Homo sapiens: one gene and its partners. The protein of the gene in region 1 purifies or fractionates together with the protein of each later gene. This does not show direct contact. Each region holds a gene or a part of one and is shown in the gene's direction. Other genes may lie near its edges.

Region 1 (3,500 bases):
TCTTTCTGAGCCTCATTGCCTCACCAGGGACACAGGAGCTGAGGCTGCTTCCCTCTTTGGAAAGCACTGAAGCCCAGGACTCGGCCCACAATAGGCCTTCAACAAATACCACTTCTCAGCTTACGGGTGAAATATGGCACCGGAAGTAATGCTCTTGGCTGTGGGAGCTACAGACAGCAATGAGGTCTCTATCAAACCCAGCCTCCTCTCTCTCGAGAGGAACCAGTGGGGATACCCTACCCCTCAACCCCAAAGCCTTGTGCACCTGAGGGTAAAAATCTGGGTGCCACGGGCTCAGGAAGGCTTGCTTGGGAGCAAGAGGGAGGTGGGTGTGTCTGGGGAGGCATTTCTGAGCACAAGAGCCTCCCTGGAGTTCTGCCATCGTCTCTCCCCGTTCTGTGGTGCCCGCAATAACCACCGTTCTGACTCTCCTCACCCCTCCAGCCTCCCAGCGTGCGGCCTGCCAACCCAGCTCCCATTGTAAGTCTCTTGCTTTCTTTTTGGATCCTCTTGATTTTGGCTCTTCTTCTGGGCTAATGGAGGATGCAGGGCCAGGCATTGGGCCTCTCCCATCGGGAGTGGGGAGGGCAGAGGCCAGGCCCTTGACCATCTACCCGGCCTGGCGAGGTTGGTGGGTGAATGTGGTTGGCTGGCCGTGATGGAACAACCTGAGTTGCCACTCCATGGGCAGCCACGGAAGACCATGCCCCACGTTCACTTCTCTCACCTGCAAAGGGAGGCTAGGCTGAGAGACGTTTCCCCGAGAGGAAAGATGGGCCAGAGCCACCAGCGTCCCCATCTGTCTTCTCCAGGGTCCTAACCTTTGCCTCTCCCTCGTCCCCTGGACCCACCCTCCGTGGGGTCTGTGGGGCCACTGGGCTGGTTATGCCCCTGGAGGGTGCCTGCCGTGTGGCACCCTCTGGTGGGAGCTGGGGTGGTCTTTACTCAGGAGAGCCTGGGTGAGACCTGGTTTCTTTCTTCCAGACCCAGACAGTCATCCACACGGTGCAGAGTGCCTCTGGACAGATGTTCTCTGTAAGTCTTCAAGTTCTGATCAGTTCACAGCTGCACAGTGCCCTCCTTCCCCAAGAACTAAACTCCCTAGAGCCCTAGAGTTGGGAAGAAAGCGGTTTAGCAAGGAGGGTGGGGACATCTGGGGCTGAGTCCTTGGCTCAGGTGACATGTGGTTAAAACTATCCTTGGGACAGCAGAGATTCTGGATTTATCCAGTGGTGGAAGAGGCAGGTTCCCTAGAGACTGGGAGGGAAACTGGTCCTTCTGTCACCAAGTGGGGAGTGCAGTGGCCCCAGCACCCGGATGTGAGGTTCCTGGCCCTGCCTCCTGGGTCCCCGGGATGTCACTACAGATCACAGGCTTAAGCTCTTCTCCTGCTGGTGCAAATCAGGCCGGGAACTTAGCATTAGTGGGGCTGCCTGCGGAGGGGCTGAGGGGCAGGTGACCATGGTGGGGTCTGGGAACACGGCAGGAAGTTCCAGGAAGGCTAACATGAAAACGGAGGTTTACGGGAGAGTCCAAGGGCCAAAGGCTCATGAGGTCAGCCTCACAGTGGAGCCCCCTCTAGAATGCGTGGGTGCGCGTGGGTGAGTGCTCGCGCACACATGCGCTCTCCCATTGAATTTCCTGGTTTCTTTTCAGCAGACTCCCGCCATCCCACCTATGATGTACCCCCACCCTGCCTATGTAAGTGGTTTCTCAGGGAGGGCAGAGGTTCTGTTTGTGGTGGGCAGGCTAGGGATGAAGGGCCGCTACGGGGGGATCCGCTGGCCTTGAAAAATGAAAAGCGAAGGGCTTTCAAAATGGTAAGCTGAAGGGCTTCAAAGCGTCCCAGTGAATTAGAAGACTGTGGAGAGGAGCTTTCAACCTTAAAACTGTCGTGTCAACGTGAGCACATTGCATGGCCCTCCCTTTTCACCCCACGAGTCTTTCTTTCTGTGTTTGGCCAAATTTCCTTTCATGACACTAATCTAAGCCCATTAATTTGAGGAGCACCGGAAAGTTTTCCTTTGGCTTTTATGGAACCAAGGAAAGATATCGTGGGCTTCTTCTCAGCTGACAGCCTAAATTCATGGGAACTGGTACAATCTTCCCCTTCCATGTGGCGGCTGCCCTGACTGCCACTGGCTGACCTGTCCCCGTCCTTCTGACAGCCGATGCCTTTCATCACCACCATTCCGGGAGGGCTGTACCCATCCAAGTCCATCATCCTGTCAGGCACTGTCCTGCCCAGTGCTCAGAGGTAAGCCAAAGGCTCCAGTGACCTCTGGGAAGAGAGAGCCCTTCAAGGTCATTCCAGCCATTCCCCTGGCTTTTGGCAGGCTGGGGATGATGGGGAGGAAATGGGGCTCAGAACTCAGTGGACAAAGGTCCAGGTAGGCTGCCCACCCCAGGTTCCACATCAACCTGTGCTCTGGGAGCCACATCGCCTTCCACATGAACCCCCGTTTTGATGAGAATGCTGTGGTCCGTAACACCCAGATCAACAACTCTTGGGGGTCTGAGGAGCGAAGTCTGCCCCGAAAAATGCCCTTCGTCCGAGGCCAGAGCTTCTCGGTAAGGCGCCGCAGCCTGGAGCTTGAGGAGGCTCCTATGGGTACACGGGGAGGGGGTAAAGGAGGTCTGGGGTACCTTGAACAGGATGGGAGCTGATGCCTCTGGGATGAGGGCCCAGAAGAAAAGGTGGCCAAAAAATTATTGTCATTATTATTAATAATTATTACTGTCCTGCATGAAGGAAGCGTTGGGATCTGCTTTTTTAGATGAGGAAAGAAACTCACAAGTGCAGGTTACTTGCTTGCGGTCACACAGTCAGTAAGTGTCAAATCAGACCCAAGAAGGAGGTGTTATTCATTTCTTCACTGACTCATTCAACGATTTCACTGTCGCCCGCTTTGTGCAGGAAGCACTCCACATGCTGGGAGCGCAGTCATGAAGCAGACACGTAGGGTCCTTCCTCCAGAGAGTTTACAATTTAGCTGGGGGAAGGAACAAGGAAACTAAAGCATGAACAGATTGTTGCAGATAACAACAGTGCCACGCAGAAAGCAAAACAGAGCGATGAGATAGAGCGAGCCTGGGAGGGGCAGCTAGGGCCAACATGCAGAGGTGTGGGTGTGGCCTCTCCAGGAACAGCAGCAGGCGTGCTCCGCCCTGACTACACATTCAAATCACCCAGAGAGCTTACAAAGAACATATAGGTGCTGGGACCCCAGCCCAGGCCAATGAGGCGGTCAGCCTGGGCATTTGTATTTTTAAAATATGCCTGAAGTGATTACACTCTGCAATCAGAGTTGAAAATGACTGATGTAGGGCTTTGCAGCCATGGAGCCAGGGAGCAACATTCTTTGATTTGTGGACAGCTGTGTGACCTCGGGCAAGTGACTTAGCTACTCTGTGCTTCAGTTTCCTCATCTACAAAATGGAGCTAATAATCATATGAATCTCCTAGAGCTGTAAGAATGGAATGAGGCAGTATCTGTAGC
Region 2 (3,500 bases), on another chromosome or scaffold:
TTATTTTTTTTAGAATCTTTCTCTTTCCCTTTATATCTGGTCCAATTCTTTCCCCATTTTCTTGTATGTAAGTATCCAGATCAACCTTGGGGATATCATTTATGACTAGCCAGCTTTTCTGAACCCAAATTGAGACAAGTTCAAGAGTTATTACACAGACCATGGGACAGAATATTTACAATTGGAACAGTCTTAGAAAATCCGAGCTGTGTAGTCACACTGGCTATGATCCAGTTCTTTTACCATAGCTCATATGTTTCATTGAGATGAATCCACCTTCTCACTAATTTATTCTCTAACTACTAAAGCAAGTACATTGTCAAACACAAGAATTTTAAGATACCTGGGAGGGATGCATTGCTAATAGATATGATAATCAAATGTCATTTAATATTTTAATATAATACAGTAAAGTGTCATTTAATATATTCCTTCTTGAGTCAGGAAGCCCTGGAGAAGAGGAGAAAACCCAGGCAGAAGCTTGCTTTTGCACTGAGAAGATACAAATATATATAAAATGCTTTTGAAAATGCAGCCTTCTTAAAGAGAAGGGAGGTAGACATTAGATCATCTCCAGCCCACAGCTTGTTTCATTTCTGCCCTTTCAGCTGTGCTTCCATGATTTCATTCCTTATCCCCTCACCCTAAAGCAGGTTTTTAGTTCCAGCGAATTTGCACCCTGCTTGGCTGTGAAGCCAGCTTTCCCTCTAGGCCCCCAGCTGGTAGGAAATAGCCCTTGGAAGCTGTGGCAGGATGGGAACCCAACTGTGTAAAGGTGCGACACACCTCATCCAGCTCCAAGTGCCAGGCAGCAGGAAGTGCAGGAGGCACTGAGCTCTGGCAGCAGACATTGAAAATGCTGGCAAAATCAGGACAAGGAAGTCTTAGTCTAGCAAAGAAGAGCATTTGATGTCTTTCTAGCAGAAGTGAAGAGTCCTTGGAGGTGGGCAGCTATTTTCTTAACATTTAATTATCCTAACAGCTTTGTTTTCTGAAGCCTGTTTGAGAAGGAAAAGAGAAGATTCCTCCCTATAGACTCTAGGACCTAGAAGGGACTCAGGTGTCACCTAGTGCATTATCTTTGCTTTAGAGAAGGCAAAGCTGAGACTCAGAGACATTAAGTGATTTCCCTGAGGTCACACAGCTTTTAAGTGCCTAGTTGAGATTTGAATCCAGGTCTGTGTGACTCCTAAGTCATCACTCTTGACGACGATAAATATCCTGCTCTCAGCGGGCCTCTGCAGAGGCAGCAGCAGCTTTACTGGGTGTTAGCATAAATCTCCTACATTTGGCATTTGCCACAACTGGAAGCCTCCTTCCAACCAGCAGGAAATCTTATCCTTGAATCACAGGCCCCCAGCAGTGCTCATGTCATATCATAATCACAGCTCAGTTCCTAGATGGTTGCCCTTGATACTTTCTCTTTTTTTTCCTCTTCAGCTTCTATTCCTCTTTTTAGTCTCTTTCTCTCAGCAATTTTTTCCTCTTTTCCTCTTTGCTCTTTCCTTCTTGTTCTCGCTTCTATTCCGTAAGATTAGGGGCTTAATAATAACAGAAATTTATCAAGTGCTTACTATGTTCCAGGCTCTGGGATCAGCATTTTATTTTATTTTATTTTATTTTATTTTATTTTATTTTATTTTAAGACGGAATCTCACTCTCTCCGTCACCCAGGGTAGAGTGCAGTGGTGCGATCTCAGCTCACTGCACCCTCTGCCTCCCAGGTTCAAGCGATTCTCCTTCCTCAGCCTCCCTAGTAGCTGGGATTATAGGCATGTGCCACCACGCCCAGCTAATTTTTGTATTTTTAGTAGAGATGGGGTTTCACCATGTTGTCCAGGCTGCTCTTGAACTTCTGATCTCAAGCGATCCACCTGCCTCAGCCTCCCAAAGTGTCAGGATGACAGGCATGAGCCGTCGCACCTGGCCATGGGTTGAACACTTTTTATCCATCATCTGATTTGTGCCCCACAACAACCCCACAAGATAGGTATTCTTATTATCACCCTTGCTTTGCAAAGAAGAAACTGAAGCCAAGGGAGGTTAGAGTGCACAACTAGGAAGTGTTGGGGACCCCATCCTGACTGACATCACATCAGCTGCGCTTTTTCCATTACTCCATATTCAGCCCAACGAGAGAGTGGAGTGACTAAAATGTACCACTGGAAGGTGCTCAACATAGATTTGGCTGAGGCTGGGCCCTCTGGAAAGTTCTTGGGTGCTATATGATACTATAGCTGTCAGTCATCATGTTCATTTTCATCTGGAGACGGTTAATCATACTCATACTCCAGAGGCTTAAGAGGTTTAAGAGATGGGAGCAAAAAAGTCCAAAGTCCTAATAGGGCTACACAGCTGACTCTCCAGAGGAGACTGGATGAGTGAAATCATAAATATATAGCTTCACACATTTCCACACCACCATTTGTCTGACAGTTTTAAAGTACATGACAAGTTATGGAAAACATCTGACTCAAAGGCAGTGACCTCCTGCAAGGTGCCAGTGAATCTGGTGAACTGCTAAGTCAAGAGACCATTTCTAGGGTTATGGGGGTTATTGGCTGTGAATATATGGAGACACTAAAAGGGCCCCTTCCTTCATCCTTTTAAGTCAAAAATTAAAGACCCCAGCCTATAATTACTTGGGTTGGGTTGAATTAACCAGCAAGGGAGTCAAAGAAATCAGAGCTTCTCTTGGCTGAGGTATTGACCATCTCATCCTGGGTGTCCATGTATGCACCAAGTGGGTAAGGGTGCCTATCCTCACTTAAAACCATCCCTTTGTCCCCCTGTCAAGATAGAACTCTGGGACTGAGGGCAGCTTTGGAAGTCACTTTGCTTATGTTGGATGCCACTTACCCTCCCCCTCCGCACACACACACACACACACACACACACACACACACACACCACGCACACACACACACACATACACACACACATAAATGTCCTCAAAGGTACACTAGAGATTTTGACTGAAACTTCTCTTAGCATTACTGAGAAATTTATTCATTAACATGTCTTAAAGGATTTGGTGCTATGGCAAAGCAATAAATATTTGCAAAGGGAGTGAATTATCAACCTGGTGTTTCTGAATGCAGTTCTCCTGCTGAGACCAAAGGAGAGCCATCAGACTATAATTGTGTTTAATGCTTTCTGTGCACTGGCTAGGGTTTATTTATTTATTTAGGGTTATTACCGATGACTTAAGCCTGATTAAATCACACTGTTTCTGCAGCTCAACCTCTCAATGAACTTCTAGATACCTTGAGGCTAATGTGTTTTACTCAACGAATTCAACCTTTTCCAGTATTCTCTTCCCCAGGCTGAGCCTATCTCTCTTCCTATTTTCTTCAGCTCATAGTCCCAGGTGTCCAGTCCCCTCCTCTTGCCTCTGATCCCTGCATTTCTTTTGCGATATTAGTCATTTCCTCTAGCCCAAGGTAAATGTGAAAATTACACTAGATCCTTCCAATCCATAAATCAGGCTGTATAATGTA
Region 3 (2,706 bases), on another chromosome or scaffold:
ATGACTGTCCTGTTTCATTTCAGACATACCGGCAGATCAGGTTAAATGAGTTATTAAAGGAACATTCAAGCACAGCTAATATTATTGTCATGTAAGTAATATCTTTATAAAGATTTTCTTGCTAATTTATGATAATATGCTTTGAATTAATTTCTATTCCAAGTACATATCTATATAACACCCATATTGACTTAGTGGTTATAAGGAGGAAAAAACAAACTTGTAAAAATATACTATGCTTTAAGCATATGGAGAAAGACAAAAACTTTAACCTTATGCTTATATGAATCCCAAGTAATCTTTTTATCATAGTAGGTTATATTGGAACCTTTTGTTTACCCTTCTTCTCACCTTTTTAAAATTCCTTATCTTTGTAAACACTACAGCATAGCCGTTAAGCACGTGTGGATAGGAGGGTCCTACGTTAAAATTTGGGCCCCGGACAGCTTCCTCTTGAAAATAATTCAAAAAATGTTATTTGGCAGATTAAACTTGAATAGTGATTCCTATCTGGATCCCCATTCTTATGTTTCCAACACGCAAATTTTACATACAGACACATTGTCCTTGAGTTAAATATGATACTAAATGCCTACTTTGGCTCTTCCTCTACTGAACTAGGTTAGCTATTCTTTGAACCCACATTTTCTGAGTTCTGGAACATGTGTCCTTAGATAGGAAAGCTCAGGCCTCTCCCCCACAAAAAAAGCCAAGTAATGAAAAAAACTACCAAAAGATTGTTAGTTTAACAACATTCAATAAATCAAAAAGTTTCAAGTTTTGCTGATGATAATCAAATACCTGTAAATGGAAAAGACACCAAAACATAGAAATTTAGAGAAAAACTATACAGCAATTGGTCACTGCTGCCACCATCCATAAATAGAAATTAAAACTAAGAGAAGATAAAAATTGCATTTATCCATATATAGCTTCTGTTTTCTAAATTTTGATAGTAAACATACCTTTCACCTAAAAGAATTCTATTCTTATTAAAGAAGGGGAAACCTAGGATTTAGTGTTAGATATCAGAGGTACTGTGGTTTATAGAAATACTTACTGTTCTTATGAACAAATTTTGAAAAATCTTTTGTTGAAAGATTATAGTCTTTTATATATGCATATATGATGGTGGTACCATAAGATTATAATACCATATGTTAAGCTGGGCATGGTGGTGTGCACCTGTAGTCTCAGCTACTTGGGAGACTGAGGTGGGAGGATTGCTTGAGATCTGGAGTTTTGGAGTTTTGAGTCCAGCCTGGGCAATGTATTAAGACCCCATCTCTCTTAAAAAAATATATATATATTTTTACTGTATCTTTTCTGTATTTAGATATGCAAATGCTTACCATCGTGTTACAGTTGCCTATAGTATTCACTACAGTAACGTACTATACAGGTTTGTAGCTTAGGAGCAACAGGCTGTGTCATATAGCCTAGATGTGTAGTAGGCTATACCATCTAGGTTTGTGTAAGTACTCCTGTGATGTTTTCACGAGGGCAAAATTGCCTGACAGTAAGTTCTGAGAAATGCGTCTCCATCGCTAAGCAACACAACTGTGGTTGTTATTCTATTTGCAGAATTCTCCTGCACTCAGAAATATTCTGTAATTATAGTAATTTACAGTAACTGTTATTGTAATCTACTTTATAATTTTTGCTACATTTTATTCTGTAAATGCATTGCTCAGGGTTTTTTTTTTTTCTTTTTCTCTTTTTGATACCAGGAGTCTCCCAGTTGCACGAAAAGGTGCTGTGTCTAGTGCTCTCTACATGGCATGGTTAGAAGCTCTATCTAAGGACCTACCACCAATCCTCCTAGTTCGTGGGAATCATCAGAGTGTCCTTACCTTCTATTCATAAATGTTCTATACAGTGGACAGCCCTCCAGAATGGTACTTCAGTGCCTAGTGTAGTAACTGAAATCTTCAATGACACATTAACATCACAATGGCGAATGGTGACTTTTCTTTCACGATTTCATTAATTTGAAAGCACACAGGAAAGTTGCTCCATTGATAACGTGTATGGAGACTTCGGTTTTAGTCAATTCCATATCTCAATCTTAATGGTGATTCTTCTCTGTTGAACTGAAGTTTGTGAGAGTAGTTTTCCTTTGCTACTTGAATAGCAATAAAAGCGTGTTAACTTTTTGATTGATGAAAGAAGTACAAAAAGCCTTTAGCCTTGAGGTGCCTTCTGAAATTAACCAAATTTCATCCATATATCCTCTTTTATAAACTTATAGAATGTCAAACTTTGCCTTCAACTGTTTTTATTTCTAGTCTCTTCCACTTTAAAACAAAATGAACACTGCTTGTCTTCTTCCATTGACCATTTAGTGTTGAGTACTGTATGTGTTTTGTTAATTCTATAAAGGTATCTGTTAGATATTAAAGGTGAGAATTAGGGCAGGTTAATCAAAAATGGGGAAGGGGAAATGGTAACCAAAAAGTAACCCCATGGTAAGGTTTATATGAGTATATGTGAATATAGAGCTAGGAAAAAAAGCCCCCCCAAATACCTTTTTAACCCCTCTGATTGGCTATTATTACTATATTTATTATTATTTATTGAAACCTTAGGGAAGATTGAAGATTCATCCCATACTTCTATATACCATGCTTAAAAATCACGTCATTCTTTAAACAAAAATACTCAAGATCATTTATATTTATTTGGAGAGAAAACTGTCCTAATTTA
Region 4 (3,500 bases), on another chromosome or scaffold:
AAATGGGTACCTTCATGGGTGTCTACCTCCCATGTCTACAAAATATTTTTGGAGTGATCCTTTTTTTACGCCTTACATGGGTGGTGGGCACAGCTGGAGTTCTTCAGGCTTTTGCAATTGTCCTTATCTGCTGCTGCTGTGTAAGTACTGCACTGGCTCCTAGAGATCACCTGAACGTTGCAAGTTCTCAAGAGCAGATGCACATGACCTCTTTGGGAATAAAACAAAGAATACTTAGGGAAGGACTCATGATCTCAACAGAAGAAATTATTCTGATATTAAAATCTAAAGGATTTTCAGTTATTCAGTGCCTGTTAGTCACTGCTTGCTATCTATTATATGATGTACTAGAAATTACAAAGCAAGACTTCAACTGAAAATGGAAGATAAAGTTCCTGTCTTCAGAGAATTCAGAATCCAAACTATTTGAGCTTGATAGCACCAAAGTTGTGACAGAAAATGTGTTAGAAAATGTGATGTATCACTCCAGTATATATTGAGAAACAAGACAGGTTATTGCGGATGTGAGGGGTATTTGGTTTTTTTATTTGGTTTTGAAGTTTCTTCCCTTATCCCTTCCTTAGAAATTTAGATGTTCTTTCCAGGTCTTCTCTCTACTGAGAACATTTTTATCTTCCTTTAATTTAAACTTCTCATTATGTATCCCAGACACACCTATGAATTTTATAGTTTTCTACTGTCCTTTTTTATCACTATGACCTTTATACCCTACCTGTATATTATCCCCAGCTGATGAGCAAAACAGGTTAAGCAGGCACAGTTCATATTTTTAATAACTTAAAATGTTCATGGTACCACCTTTTTTTAGTCTCAGGCTTAAAACCTCAAGGCTGTGTTTGGCTTCTTAATTGCTTTTCACATCTAATCAGCTACCAACGCTAATCTATTCTCTGAAATCTTTTACACTCAGCCCTTTTTATTCACACTACCACCACTATAGTTTTTACCTCTCACTGAACTACTATGGTAGCCTGCTAACCAATCACTCGGCCTCCAGCTACTCCTATCTGCAGCGCATTCTATACTGTGCTACCGGGTAATATTTTTAAAATGCGGTTCCTGTGTGCTCAGAAGCCTTCAGTGATTCCCTTTCTTACTGAACATTGTTCTTGATATTGTATTTAGTCTTTAGTCAGGTTCTAACCTATTTTCTGAGTTATTTCTCTAGTTCTTCCTTTTGAGTATACTATGCTCTATTTCCTGTGTAACTAGGAAATCCAGAGTGAGATTAGCAGTTCTTAATAGCACCTGACCTACTGATGTGGGAGCATTTTGACAGAATCCTCCAGATATTAGTGGTATGACTAGCGCAATGAATTGGACCATATCATCTTATTTCCATACCATTAGGTATGACTGTCCATAAAAGTAGGTAGAGTTAAATGTTTGCCAAGTGCTCTTGGAACACAAATGGAGAAGTAGTATAGAAATGTCATCTTTACACAGTAACAATCCTCTCCTTTCCTTTTCTCTGCAGACAATGTTGACTGCTATCTCCATGAGTGCCATTGCCACTAATGGAGTGGTGCCAGGTTAGTAGGTCAAGGTTGTATTTCAGGATTTATCAGTGTTGACTCTGTGTTTATGCTATAAAGCTAGAGGTGCAAACTTCTGAAGAATAGAATACTATTTGGTCTGTTCTGTGCTACAACAGAGTAATGGTCTATAGGACGTAGACATAATACTACTTGACTTTAAGATGCCGTCTTTAAAATCTCTTTATTTTTTAAACTAGAATGCATTAATTTCAGTCACATTCTTAGCTTTTATTAGTTGGAATATATATTTTTTTATAGACAGAGTCTCACTCTGTCACCCAGGCTGGAGTGCAGTGACACGATCATAGCTCACACAGCCTCCAACTCCTAGGCTCAAGCTGCTTTCCCACTTCAGCCTCCTGAGTAGCTGGAACTAGAGGTGTACACCACTATGCCTGGCTATTTTTTTTTTTTTACAGAGGTGACATTTTACTATGTTACCCAGTTTGGTCTCAAACTCCTGGCCTCAAGCAATCCTCTCGCCTCATCCTCCCAAAGTGCTACCATTAGAGGCGTGAACCTCCACACCCAGCCAGAATATATTTTATTGGGCTGTCTCATGTCATAGTAAATATTCTCTAATTTTTTTCTAAGTAAATGCTGGCAAACTATTGCTTCATATGGCTCATTACATTAGTTGTGCAGTATATCCCACAATAACACTTTCACCTTTTACTTCCCACTAGCACATCTTTTTATCACATTGAGGGTTTGCAGAAGCCTGAAACATTTAACCTTTATGTATATATTTTTTCTTATTTCTGTTTTATTCATATTCCTCTTGCTAATACACACTCTTTCTTCTATTCACCTTCTGTTTTGTCTTTTAGCTGGGGGCTCATACTTTATGATTTCCCGGGCACTGGGCCCAGAGTTTGGTGGGGCTGTTGGCCTCTGCTTTTATCTTGGTACCACATTTGCAGCAGCCATGTACATCCTTGGTGCCATTGAAATCTTTCTGGTAAGTAATGACTTCATTGTGGTCTATAATATAGAAGAAATATTGATTTAGGTTTATTCTTTGCTATGAAAGCTTCTGAGAGATCAGCTGTGGGAATAAATCAGGTGATTGACTGCCAACGTCAGTTGGCCTCTTACATGAATATGAGGTGGAAAGGTTGAAATTCTGTTTGCCTGCCTGTCCCTTCCTTTCTACCTGATTGCCACCACTCTGCCACCTCATCCAAGAGGTTCAAGTCCAATGGGGAAAAAGTAAAATAAAGTTTATCTTTTTTGATATCTTCATCCCTATGAAATAAAATGCTTCTCATATCTCTCTTCACTGAGACATATTGTTTACTATTTAAAGTAGTGATAGTAGAGTCAGGGTTAAAGATCATCATTATAATTACTTTATATAACCCTATGAATAAAATTAATAATTTGTTCCTTTCCTTTCTTTCCATTTGGAAATGTAGTTATTCAGAACAGCATGTAGACCAAAAAAAAAAAAAAAATCCATGACATCCCATTTCTGAAGGCATTTCAGATCCTATTAGAAACTAGGCTAATTCCCCAGTCATTTTCTCTCTCAGCTTTGCTTTCTTTTGTGAAAGTAAATGCAAACGAATACAGCCTTTTTACTTAATTATTTTGAAATAACCTAATTTTCTCCTTTATTTTTACCTAACAGGTCTATATCGTCCCCCGAGCTGCCATCTTTCACAGTGATGACGCACTCAAGGAATCAGCAGCCATGCTAAATAACATGCGTGTCTACGGCACAGCTTTCTTGGTCCTTATGGTATTAGTGGTATTTATCGGCGTACGCTATGTGAACAAGTTTGCCTCACTTTTCCTGGCCTGTGTCATTGTGTCCATCTTGGCCATCTATGCTGGAGCCATCAAGTCTTCTTTTGCTCCTCCACACTTCCCGTACGTGTCTGTCTCTCTGCCTAGCCATCCTTATTGGGTAGTAATTGAAAATATCTGGTGGTGTGA
Region 5 (3,500 bases), on another chromosome or scaffold:
GTACCCAGCCTTAGAATTATTTTGACACGAGTTCCTGGGTATACCATTGGGCGTTATAATGGCCTAATTTGCAAGAGACCTCCCCCTCCCCCCAAAAAAAAACTTTCTAACTGGATGGGGTCCCTGATTATATCATAGAGATGCTTTATGTATGTATATGGAAATGTGCCCTCTAGTAGCTGGAATTTAGAGCCTTTTAAACAGTGGGTTCCTGCTTACTTTTGAAACACTGTATTTTTATTGTACTTTTATTTATTCATTTAGAGACAGGGTCTCCCTCTGTCAGGCTGGAGTGCAGTGACGCAGTCACAGCTCACTGCAGCCTTGACTTCCCAGGCTCAAGCAATTCTCCAACCTTAGCCTCTTGAGTAGCTGGGACCACAGGCCTTGTGACACCATGCCTGGCCAATTTTTTTTTTTTTTTTTTTTTTGGTAGAGACAAGGTCTCACTGTTGCCCAGACTGGTTTCAAACTCCTGAGCTTAAGTGATTATCCTACCTCGGCTTCCCAAAGTGCTGGGATTACAGGTGTGAGCCACCATGCCTGGCTGTTCAGTACTTTATGTCAGTGTTGCCTCCTAGTTTAGAATGAACTGATCTGGAGAATCAAGGATAGTACATCTCACTATGGATGTCTTTTCCTTGTTTGTTTAAGTTACAGCCAGCAGAAATTATTTCCAAAGGCGTGCTTGTGTGGCAACCTGTTGGCATTAGAGCATTTTTGCAATAGGCCACTTATTTCTAAAGCAGAGCCAACAACCAACCACTGAAGCCACATCCAGGCAGTAGTAGTGGGAAATGTGTGGTTTGAAGCCCCTGTTGTGCTGGTGGAGATCACATATTGTTGCAAGCCCCTGGGAGTTAGGTTGTGTGCTACCCTGCCAAGTGTGCAAAAGAGTGTCCTTGGCTGCTTTTCGCCCCCTCATCAGCGGATTAAATTCAGCATCTCTTCTTGTTCATGTAGAATGCTATAGGAACAGCTTTTGTAGCCAGAATGCAGAAATCAGATTAGTATGCTGCTTTATTTTGTTTCTTCAATTCTGTTCTCTGTGGTCAAGCTTTGCTGAAGGAGGAAAAGTGGTTCCAAAAAAGACTATCAGGAACTATTCAGACTGTTCAGATAATGAGGTTTTGTTTGTGGATGGTTGGTTGGTTGCTTTGAGTTCCTAGTCTGTTTATGGTAGTTTACTGTCTGATCCCCATCACTAATGGTCATGTATGTCATTGAGGGGTAGACAGAGGACATGGTCCATTACCTTTGAGAGATAATGATCCAGCTATTGGCTCCCTTTTCAACTGTCACATTTTTACATAGACTTATCTTCCCACACCCACCTCTCTTTCCTTATTACCTACTTCAGGTTTAATCACCTATAAATCTGATACTAGCCCCAGTCTTCCTTCATAAACATTGATTGAGCAATCCTTCTGTGCTAGTTTCAGGATTAGGTGCTGGGTCAGGTGTTGGGAGACTGAAAATGAGTAAGACATACCTGTGTCTTCCAGGAGAAAAGTTCCTTAGAACCAGACTGTGATATTGTGAAATATATAAGGCATTCTTCCAGTTTCTTGGCATGCAACTCCTAAAACTTTTGGAATTTTCAAAGTGGTAAGTGTCTTTTTGTATGCTAATAAGTTGACAGATGGCTGGCAGCCCCTAGGTAGCTTCCTGATGGGGGCTGGTCACTGGAAAGACCAAGGCAGGATTAAAGGTTTGGACTTCCAGCCCCATCTACCAACCTGAAGAGGGGTAAGAGCCAGGCTGAAGGTTAAGCTGATCACCAGTGGCTAATGATTTAATCAATCATGCCTATGTAATAAAGCCTCCATAAGAACCCAAAAATTCTGTGCGCTGCCCTGGCAAATTAATGGAACCCAAAGAGGGTGTTGCAAGAACCTCAATTTGTAGCCGGTGGGTCAGAAACCCAGGCAAAACAACCTGGGGCCTGTGATTGGTGTCGGAAGTGGGGGGGGGCAGCCTTGTAGGACTGAGCCCTCAATCTGAGCTCTGAGGCTTACTGCAGGTGGATAGTATCCGAATTGAGTTGATTTAGAGGACGCCCAGCTGGCGTTCATTGCTGAACAACTACTTGCTTGTCATGTGGGAAGAACTCTTCCCACATCTGGTGATAAACGTATTCTGTGTTGATTGTATTGAGAGTACAGAAGGAGAACCTGAGTTTGGTTTTCTCTGCATCATCAGACAGAGATTTGCAATAAAAGGTACATATAAAACTGAAGGGAGAGACTGGGAGAGAGCTTCACAGAAGAGATTTTTGGGTCAGATGCTGAAAGACTAGGAAAATGTAGTGCAGAGATGGCCGGAGGAGAGTCTGGAGTTCCAAATAGTTGCCTGCTAGGGAAGGCAGGGAGAGGCTATGCCGTGAAGGATCCTCCATACACTTTAAGGATTTTGGGTTTTACTCTGTATGTGATTTGGAGCTCCTGAAGGATGTTAATGAAAAGAGTGATAGGATTGGATTTGCTTTTGGAAAGATCTCCATGGTAGCACGTTCTAAAATGGGTTGGGAAAGGAGACAGTAGAGCTAAGCCTTTCCAGTAGTTGGGGTCAGAAATGCCTGCAGTGGTCATGGAATAGAGAAGAATGGGTCTGACAGCTTTATGAAAGAGGCGCCATCTGTGGGTTCTCAGCTGCTGATTGTTTCCGGCAAGCAGAGAGGAGCCCAGGATGATGGTGGCAGGAGGAGAGAATTTTCTGTTCCAACTAGTCTTTTAATTTTCCCCTCTGACCATTGGCTCAGACCATTCTCCCTCCCCGACTCCTTTTTTTTTTTTTTTTTTTTGGGAGACGTTGTCTTGCTCTGTTGCCCAGGCTGGAGTGCAGTGGCGTGATCTCAGCTCACGGCAAGCTCCGCCTCTTGGATTCACTCCATTCTCCCACCTCAGCCTCCCAAGTAGCTGGGACTACAGGCCCCCGCCACCACACCCAGCTATTTTTTTTGTATTTTTAATAGAGGCGGGGTTTCACCGTGTTAATCAGGATGGTCTCATCTCCTGACCTCGTGATCCGCCTGTCTCAGCCTCCCAAAGTGCTGGAATTACAGGCATGAGCCACCACGCCCGGCCCCCCCACTCCAGCTCTGTTGCCCAGGCTGGAGTGCAATGGCTCAATATCAGCTCACTGCAACCTCCGCCTCCCGGGTTCAAGTTATTCTCCTGCCTCAGCCTCCTAAGTAGCTGGGATTACAGGTGCCCACCACTGTGCCCGGCTAATTTTTGTATTTTTAATAGAAATGGGGTTTCGCCATGTTGGCTAGGCTGGTTTCGAACTCCTGATCTCAGGTGATCCGCCTGCCTCGGCCTCCCAAAGTGCTGAGCAGGCGTGAGCCACCATGCCTGGCCAGACCATTCCCCTTCATAGTAATTTCAGCCTCACCTCCTCTTTTTCTCAGTGGTTCCCTGTGATATTATGACACATATGTTTTTGTCCATGGTTCCTGGCTTATAACTACCATAACTCTTGCTATAATGTTGGGGTGC
Region 6 (3,500 bases), on another chromosome or scaffold:
TATTTCTGTGTAAATTAGCCATGTTTCTTCACATACATGGCTATCCTGATGTGACCAATATTTTTCCCCAACCTTCACCCTTGAAAAGTTTATTTCATCACCTAGCCAGATGAGAAACATCTTGAACTTTTTTTTATCATCTGATTTCCCCTTCCCTGACCCCAGTCTGTACTCTCCCAAAGTACTTAGCCAAAGGGGTGATGACGCAAGAGAGAGGTATGTGTCACAGGAAAGGTGGGAGTCCAGATTGACTCCAGGGGAGGTGGGAGGTCTATATATACCTTTAGAAAACAAGATAAGAAAAGGCAACAGAAAAACTGTCAAAAAAAAGTTGTTATGGACAGTCTGATACACACAAAGGTAGAAAGAATAGTGTAATAGATGTTTGCACCCCGACCTTGCCTCAGTAATATCAACTTTTCGTCAGTCTTATTGCCCCTACTTACTTTTTGCTTCATTATCTTAAAGCAAATCTCAAAATTTTTAAGACCAAATATTTTAAATACTTTGTCATTGGAAATAATATTTAACATGGAACCAGATATTTAACATGTAAGACATGAAGATTTTCCTTAGTTAGAAACTACCGCTTATAGGCAATGTACTTTTCTTTTCTTTTTTTTTTTTTTTTTTTTTTTTTTTTTTTTTTTTTTTTTTTGAGATGGCGAAATTTCACTCTTGTTGCCCAGGCTGGAGTGCAGTGGCGCGATCTTGGCTCACTGCAACCTCCACCTCCCGGGTTCAAGTGATTCTCCTGCCTCAGCCTTTGTATTTTTAGTAGAGACGGGGTTTCACCATGTTGGTCAGGCTGGTCTTGAACTCTTGACCTCAGGTGACTCGCCCATCTCGGCCTCCCAAAGTGCTGGGATTACAGGCGTGAGCCACTGCACCCGGCCTGGCAATGTACTTTTCATATGGAGATTCTGGAGCCACTAGCCATGTCTGGCTGTTTACATTAAAATTTAAAATGCAGTTTTCTAGTCACACTAGCCACAATTTAAGTGCTCAGTAGAGCTTCATGTGGCTAGTGGCTGCTATATTGGATCATGCAGACTTTCCATTATAGAAAGTTGTATCGGACATCACTGGTCTAGAGTAGCTTATTTTAAAGCTCTGTAGTACATGGAACTTCAGGTATTTGGTTTTTGTGAGAAATAATACTTATTCTCTTCTCCTTTAGCTGCATTGTTGTGGAATTCACAACTACTCAGACTGGGAAAATACAGATTGGTTCAAAGAAACCAAAAACCAGAGTGTCCCTCTTAGCTGCTGCAGAGAGACTGCCAGCAATTGTAATGGCAGCCTGGCCCACCCTTCCGACCTCTATGCTGAGGTGAGTCTCTTGGCCACGACTTGAGTCTAGCTTGATTAACCTGTTTTTCACCATGTCTTATCACCATCTGGGACTTCTTTTCTGCCACCTTGCTTGTCTTTAATGTCATATATTGTTTTACTGTAAATTATTATAAAATGCATGTCTTTGTTTTAATTACATGTCTGTAAATTATACCAATCATGGAATCTTTTTTCCACTCTTTCAGTTTCTGTCATTTTCCTTTCTGTAAGTGGGTAGTGGCCTGTGAATCTGCAGCTTTAACTTTTAAAGAACACTTCTAACGAGGATGACTGTGTTTGTTACAGGGGTGTGAGGCTCTAGTAGTGAAGAAGCTACAAGAAATCATGATGCATGTGATCTGGGCCGCACTGGCATTTGCAGCTATTCAGGTAAGCACAGCTTGCCAAGGAGTTCTATCGGAGTGAGTTGGTTCTCTGTTGTCAGCCCTGAATGGTTTTAATCCCCATCACAGTGAATCTTTGTGTATGTAGGTAATGTGGAAGTGACTGAGGTACTGGCCTCCAGTTTCCCATGTTTTCCATTTCTTGTCTATACACCTAGACCCGGAATGGTCTAAAGAAACCAGAAATCTGGATGGGGAGGGACCACGTGTTGAGGGAACTCCTCGTCTTACTGTCTTTCTTGATTAGTGAGTGACCTGTTCAAAACATAAACGAACTGTTGTCTTAGTGTATTCTTGGAAGATATTTTATTAGAATGTCACAAAATTTTTAAAAATTGTACTTCTTTCTTTCAGTTTGGGAATACAAAGCTTTATTCAGTTTTTTTGTATGCTAGTTCTCCCTCTAGTTCTTGTTTTTCTGTCCTCACAGGTTTTATATATTCATATACGTAAATCAAGAACTGGTACTACAGCACTGGTCTCTTGCACTAAACACAACAACTTTTAAAAATAGAGACAAGGTCTCACTCTGTCACCCAGGCTTGAGTGCAATGACATGATAATAGCTCACTGTAACTTTGAACTCCTGGGCTCAAGCGATCCTCCTGCTTCAGCCTCTCCAGTAGCTGGGACTACAAGCACGGGCCACCACACCAGACTAATTTTTAATTTTTTTTTTTTTTTTCCAGAAATGGGGTCTCATTATGTTGCCCAGGCTGGTCTCAAACTCCTGGCCTCAAGCAATCCTCTGTCTTGGCCTCCTAAAGTGTTGGGATTTACAGGCGTGAGCCACCGCACCCAGCTTATGCTTTCTTTTCTTTTCTTTTCTTTTTTTTTTTTTTACGACAGAGTTTTGCTTTTGTTGCCCAGGCTAGAGTGCAATGGTGTGATCTCAGCTCACTGCAACCTCTGCCTCCCAGGTTCCAGTGATTCTTCTGCCTCAGCTTCCCAAGTAGCTGGGATTACAGGTTCCCGCTACCATGCCCAGCTAATTTTTGTATTTTTAGTAGAGACAGGTTTTTACCATGTTGGCCAGGTTGGTCTTGAACTCCTGACCTCAGGTGATCCACCTGCCTCGGCCTCCCAAAGTACTGGGATTATAGACGTGAGCCATCGCGCCCAGCCTCAGCTTATGCTTTCTTAAGCCTGAAACCTATTTCAAGAGCTAAAAGAGCCAGGTGTGATGGGTTACACCTGTAATCCCAGCACTTTGGGAGACCGAGGAGTAGGATCCCATGATGTTAGGAGTTTGAGACCAGCCTGGGCAATAAGACTCCATTTCTACCAAAAAAAAAATTTTTTTTAAAAAAGAAAAATGTAGATAACTTTTATTTGTTAAATAAAACCAATGTAATTGCTAGTTTAAATGTAAGTTGCTTGGATTGCTTGCTCTTTGTATATTTGAACAGAAGCTAGTGTATTTAATGGGAAAGGCCTTTTAAAATGGCAAAAGGATGATTGTTTACTTTGCTGATATTCAGACAGCCCTGAAATGATTCATTAAAAAGCCTACCTCTTTATTTGCCATGGTCTTTGCCCTTCTAAGCATTTACTCTGTAGCTCTGCATAGCAGTAATCTGATGATCAGCAGGGATTTATTTCATATTTTGATTATTTATGCAAACACATTCATTTAGCTAAAAATAATGAAATATGAGGAAGGTCTCTTTTCCCAAATAGAATTCTGAACTGTGCATTCTTAATGATTTTATGTTCAGTAATAAAGCCACATGTACTAGCATGCAGCAAAAAAGTTTTGGA
Region 7 (3,500 bases), on another chromosome or scaffold:
CTCTGTCTCCCTCTTCTTCCCTCCCTCCCTCTCTCTCTCTCTGTCTGTCTGTCTGTCTCTCTCTCTGTCTCTCTCTCTGTAGTGTGTTCCTTCCTGCCCCTGCTTATCTTGCCTGTTTGGCTCAGGGGAAGTGGCTGAGGTCTCTGCCCTGCGTCCTGATGGATTTGTGAGAAGCCTGTCTGCTGCTCTCCCAGGCAGCCCTGTGTCAGGAGAAGCTGTTGTAGGGTTGCTGGGAACACCTGGCAGGCTGTTAGGAGACACCTAGGAGTGGCCTCAGTGTGAGCTCAGAGGCCGGGGACCTCGGCCCTCTGTGTCCTCCTCAAACAGTGGGCCTTGTTCCGGCGGTGGGTGGGGCCCTTGGTTGTTCCCCAGGGGGTGGGGCCAGGCCCCGTGCTCTTCGAGTCGCACACACACGCCCCCGGCTGTCTCCACTCGGCCTTCTTGTCGGGACGCCCCTGACAGGCGCTGGCTGCTTGTGCAGCCTGCAGCTGCCCTTCTGGTCCCTTCTGGTCCCTCCCACGTCTGCTCCCGGACTTCATCTCAGCACATCCGAAAGCCCTGGAGCCCAGGGTCAGCTGCAGGGCCTGGCCACAGCGCTGGCTTCTCGTGTTTCCCTTGCCTCCACTGAAGGTGGGCCCGTCTTGCTATGGAGGGGGTGATCTGCCGGGGGTCCTCTCCCTGTACCTCCGCTCCAGCCTCCCCCGTCCGTCTGAGTGCGCTCCGCGCCGTGGGTGGAGGGCGTGGGGGCAGAGCCTCTGCGTGGCTCCTGGTGTCTCCGCGCCGTGGGTGGAGGGCGTGGGGGCAGAGCCTCTGCGTGGCTCCTGGTGTCTCCGCGCCGCGGGTGGAGGGCGTGGGGGTAGAGCCTCTGCGTGGCTCCGGGTGTCTCTGAGCCGCGGGTGGAGGGCGTGGGGGCAGAGCCTCTGCGTGGCTCCGGGTGTCTCCGCGGCACTGGATTGTGGGCTCTGCTGCCTCCCAGGCCACCCCGAGCAATGGGTGCTTCAGGCTGCGCCTTGGATGGGACCGAGCCAGGCGTGAAGTGGCCCCCACCGACCCGGCTTCCCAGAGCTTTGTAGGAGCCGATTGTGTGGAAACATCCCCGGCCGTGGCTCCCTAGAGCAAGGTGGTGCCACAGCGGGAGGGGTCGCAGCGTCTGCTGGCCTGGCTGGCTGGGCTGAGTCGTTCTAGGATCTCATTCCCAAAGTCCTTAGGTCCTGGGGGCCTGTGAGCCATTGCTCAGCACCGTCTCTGGGCTGACCCTTGGCCATGGGATTAACACAGGCTCCAGAGAAGCCCTGGGTGTGGGGGGCGTGGGGGTCAGTGACGGGGTCGGTTCTCGTCCTCGGATCCAGGGGAGCAGTAGACGTGGGTGCTCATCCGCGTGCCTGGGCCCGCATCCCCTCAGCCGCAGTATTGCAGCGTGGGCTGGCGGAGCTTGGACTGCAGCCTCGGCTGCAGCTCACGCTCGGGGTCTCCCCAGAGACCGCCTTTCCAGCTTTCTGGGCAGGGGCTGCCATCACATGGCACTGACTCCTCAGATGGGTCTTTGCAGCATTTTCCATGTTCACAGGTATCATGGCGGGTTCAAACCGGTCCGGGGACCTCAAGGATGCACAGAAGTCCATCCCCACGGGGACCATCCTGGCCATAGTGACGACGTCTTTCATCTGTATCCTTGGAGGGGTGCAGGCGAGGGTTCCAGCCTCTGCCTGGGGGGAGGCCCCCATGCCCTCCCCGGCTCAGCATCATACCCTCGGCCACCAGCATGTGACTTCCCAGGTTAGGCTGTGCTCTCACCACGTCATCCTCCCTGGGAGACGGGGCAAGGGCTGCTGTCAGGACCCTGGCTTCTTCACCACTGTGTGATGCGATCGTAGAGAAAACAGAAGCAGTCACCCTGCCGCGTGTGGACAGTGATGCGCAGCGGTGTGTGGGGTGTGCCGCCGGCAGGCTGGGCCCGCGGGGCCTCTGGCTTCTCAATCCCAAGGCTGCCTCTTTCCAGCCGAGCATTGTCCCCTCAGCATGGTCCCCTGCCAATCCCTGGCGGTCAAGCACCAGGCCAGGTGTGTGTCCACCACCCCAGGGCCCCGTTCTGTGGCGCTGGACAGAGCCCCAGGAGGGTGCGCTGAGGACACGGGGGACAGGACGTGCCCGGGATGGGATGGGATGCAGAACGGTCCCCGCCCACCTGGATCCTGCGGCCCGCTGGCCAGTGCATCTCCCCACCCACCCCACCCCACCCCACCCCACCCCCCGTACCTGAGGACCCTGCACCCACGGACCTGCCTTTCCTTGACGAGGGCTGTGGATCTCTCCTGCATTGTGCTGTTTGGGGCCTGCATTGAAGGCGTGGTCTTACGAGATAAGTACGTTTCCACCTGCAGTTTTCGTGCAAAGCCTGTAGTCTTCAAGGGTTTTCCTGAGGATGAATTCGGCTTTGAAATTACATCGCCCTAGGACTTCATGTCCGCGTGCAGAGCTGAAGGCGTCCTGGTCCCAGGGTTGGGATCCCTTGGTCTGATGTGTCGTCTCTTCCGCTGGAGCCTAGGGCCTGGGGAACCGTTCAGAGCCAACTCCAAGCCCTGATGCGGCTGGGGGCGCAGGCCCTTCCTGGGGAGGCCACAGGGGTGTGGACGGGTGAGGCTTGGCCCTGGGAGATCCCTCAGCCCTGCTGGCAAGTGGAGAAGTAGTGGGGTCCCAGGCAGGTCATCACTGACCCTGCATCCTCATGGGGTGTGCGTGTCTGGCAGCCCCAAGGCCCCGGGGGTCCTGGGTGGTCCCTGACTGAAGCTGATGCCAGGCTGGGTCTTCCCTGCTCCCAAGAGCGACCCTGAGGTGAGCAGGACCCCCTCCCCCGCTGAAGACCCTCCAGAGCATTCTGGCCATGCTGGGCAGAGCCTGGTGGAGGTTTCAGCCAACGGGGACTGGAGGCCGGGCCTCAGCTTTCCAAGGAGTCGCCCCCACTGCACTGGGCCCCTCGCTCTGGGTGGGAGAAGACATTTTGTCTGACTCAGGCTCACTTCTGAAAGCCGCCCGCCCGCCTGCCCGCCTGCCTGCAGGTTCGGGGAGGCCCTGCAGGGGAACCTGGTCATCGGCATGCTGGCCTGGCCCTCCCCCTGGGTCATCGTCATCGGCTCCTTCTTCTCCACCTGCGGTGCCGGCCTGCAGAGCCTCACGGGGGCACCGCGCCTACTGCAGGCCATTGCCCGTGACGGCATCGTCCCCTTCCTGCAGGTGAGTCCCGCACCCTCGTCGGGGGGACCCTGGAAGGTCAGGGTCGGGGGCTCTCCTCCCCTGCGGGATCCTCACAGTGCCGTGTGTGGGACGCATGCCCGCGGCTTGGACCCCATGGTGGTCATTCTGCCCCTGGCCACTGCACAGAGCATGGGAGTGGTGGGAGGTGGGTGGTGGGCAGAGGCAATTCTAGCCCTCCTGCCTGCAGGTCCCTCCGAGCTCGGCCCCGGGTGTGTCAGGAGCGGCTGTGAGGGCCCACAGCCACGTGT

The links.
Region 2: the proteins of LGALS9C (region 1) and DCX purify together in Homo sapiens (affinity purification with mass spectrometry; 2 studies listed by BioGRID and IntAct, with this or other methods). This does not show direct contact.
Region 3: the proteins of LGALS9C (region 1) and SLC12A2 purify together in Homo sapiens (affinity purification with mass spectrometry; 3 studies listed by BioGRID and IntAct, with this or other methods). This does not show direct contact.
Region 4: the proteins of LGALS9C (region 1) and SLC12A6 purify together in Homo sapiens (affinity purification with mass spectrometry; 3 studies listed by BioGRID and IntAct, with this or other methods). This does not show direct contact.
Region 5: the proteins of LGALS9C (region 1) and ANO6 purify together in Homo sapiens (affinity purification with mass spectrometry; 3 studies listed by BioGRID and IntAct, with this or other methods). This does not show direct contact.
Region 6: the proteins of LGALS9C (region 1) and TSPAN3 purify together in Homo sapiens (affinity purification with mass spectrometry; 2 studies listed by BioGRID and IntAct, with this or other methods). This does not show direct contact.
Region 7: the proteins of LGALS9C (region 1) and SLC12A7 purify together in Homo sapiens (affinity purification with mass spectrometry; 3 studies listed by BioGRID and IntAct, with this or other methods). This does not show direct contact.

What each region holds. Positions count from the first base shown.
Region 1 is NC_000017.11:18,490,289-18,493,788, forward strand, and holds part of LGALS9C (galectin-9C), read left to right. Parts: intron 1-444; coding exon 445-480; intron 481-984; coding exon 985-1,035; intron 1,036-1,656; coding exon 1,657-1,701; intron 1,702-2,168; coding exon 2,169-2,257; intron 2,258-2,408; coding exon 2,409-2,571; intron 2,572-3,500. UniProt on the Homo sapiens protein: Binds galactosides.
Region 2 is NC_000023.11:111,402,193-111,405,692, reverse strand, and holds part of DCX (neuronal migration protein doublecortin), read left to right. Parts: intron 1-3,500. UniProt on the Homo sapiens protein: Microtubule-associated protein required for initial steps of neuronal dispersion and cortex lamination during cerebral cortex development. May act by competing with the putative neuronal protein kinase DCLK1 in binding to a target protein.
Region 3 is NC_000005.10:128,184,766-128,187,471, forward strand, and holds part of SLC12A2 (solute carrier family 12 member 2), read left to right. Parts: exon of another isoform or gene 1-23; coding exon 24-91; intron 92-1,730; coding exon 1,731-1,866; 3' UTR 1,867-2,706. UniProt on the Homo sapiens protein: Cation-chloride cotransporter which mediates the electroneutral transport of chloride, potassium and/or sodium ions across the membrane. Plays a vital role in the regulation of ionic balance and cell volume.
Region 4 is NC_000015.10:34,254,282-34,257,781, reverse strand, and holds part of SLC12A6 (solute carrier family 12 member 6), read left to right. Parts: coding exon 1-140; intron 141-1,498; coding exon 1,499-1,553; intron 1,554-2,389; coding exon 2,390-2,520; intron 2,521-3,192; coding exon 3,193-3,434; intron 3,435-3,500.
Region 5 is NC_000012.12:45,219,095-45,222,594, forward strand, and holds part of ANO6 (anoctamin-6), read left to right. Parts: intron 1-3,500. UniProt on the Homo sapiens protein: Small-conductance calcium-activated nonselective cation (SCAN) channel which acts as a regulator of phospholipid scrambling in platelets and osteoblasts.
Region 6 is NC_000015.10:77,050,610-77,054,109, reverse strand, and holds part of TSPAN3 (tetraspanin-3), read left to right. Parts: intron 1-1,180; coding exon 1,181-1,333; intron 1,334-1,641; coding exon 1,642-1,725; intron 1,726-3,500. UniProt on the Homo sapiens protein: Regulates the proliferation and migration of oligodendrocytes, a process essential for normal myelination and repair.
Region 7 is NC_000005.10:1,077,564-1,081,063, reverse strand, and holds part of SLC12A7 (solute carrier family 12 member 7), read left to right. Parts: intron 1-1,567; coding exon 1,568-1,666; intron 1,667-2,305; coding exon 2,306-2,363; intron 2,364-3,056; coding exon 3,057-3,231; intron 3,232-3,500. UniProt on the Homo sapiens protein: Mediates electroneutral potassium-chloride cotransport when activated by cell swelling. May mediate K(+) uptake into Deiters' cells in the cochlea and contribute to K(+) recycling in the inner ear.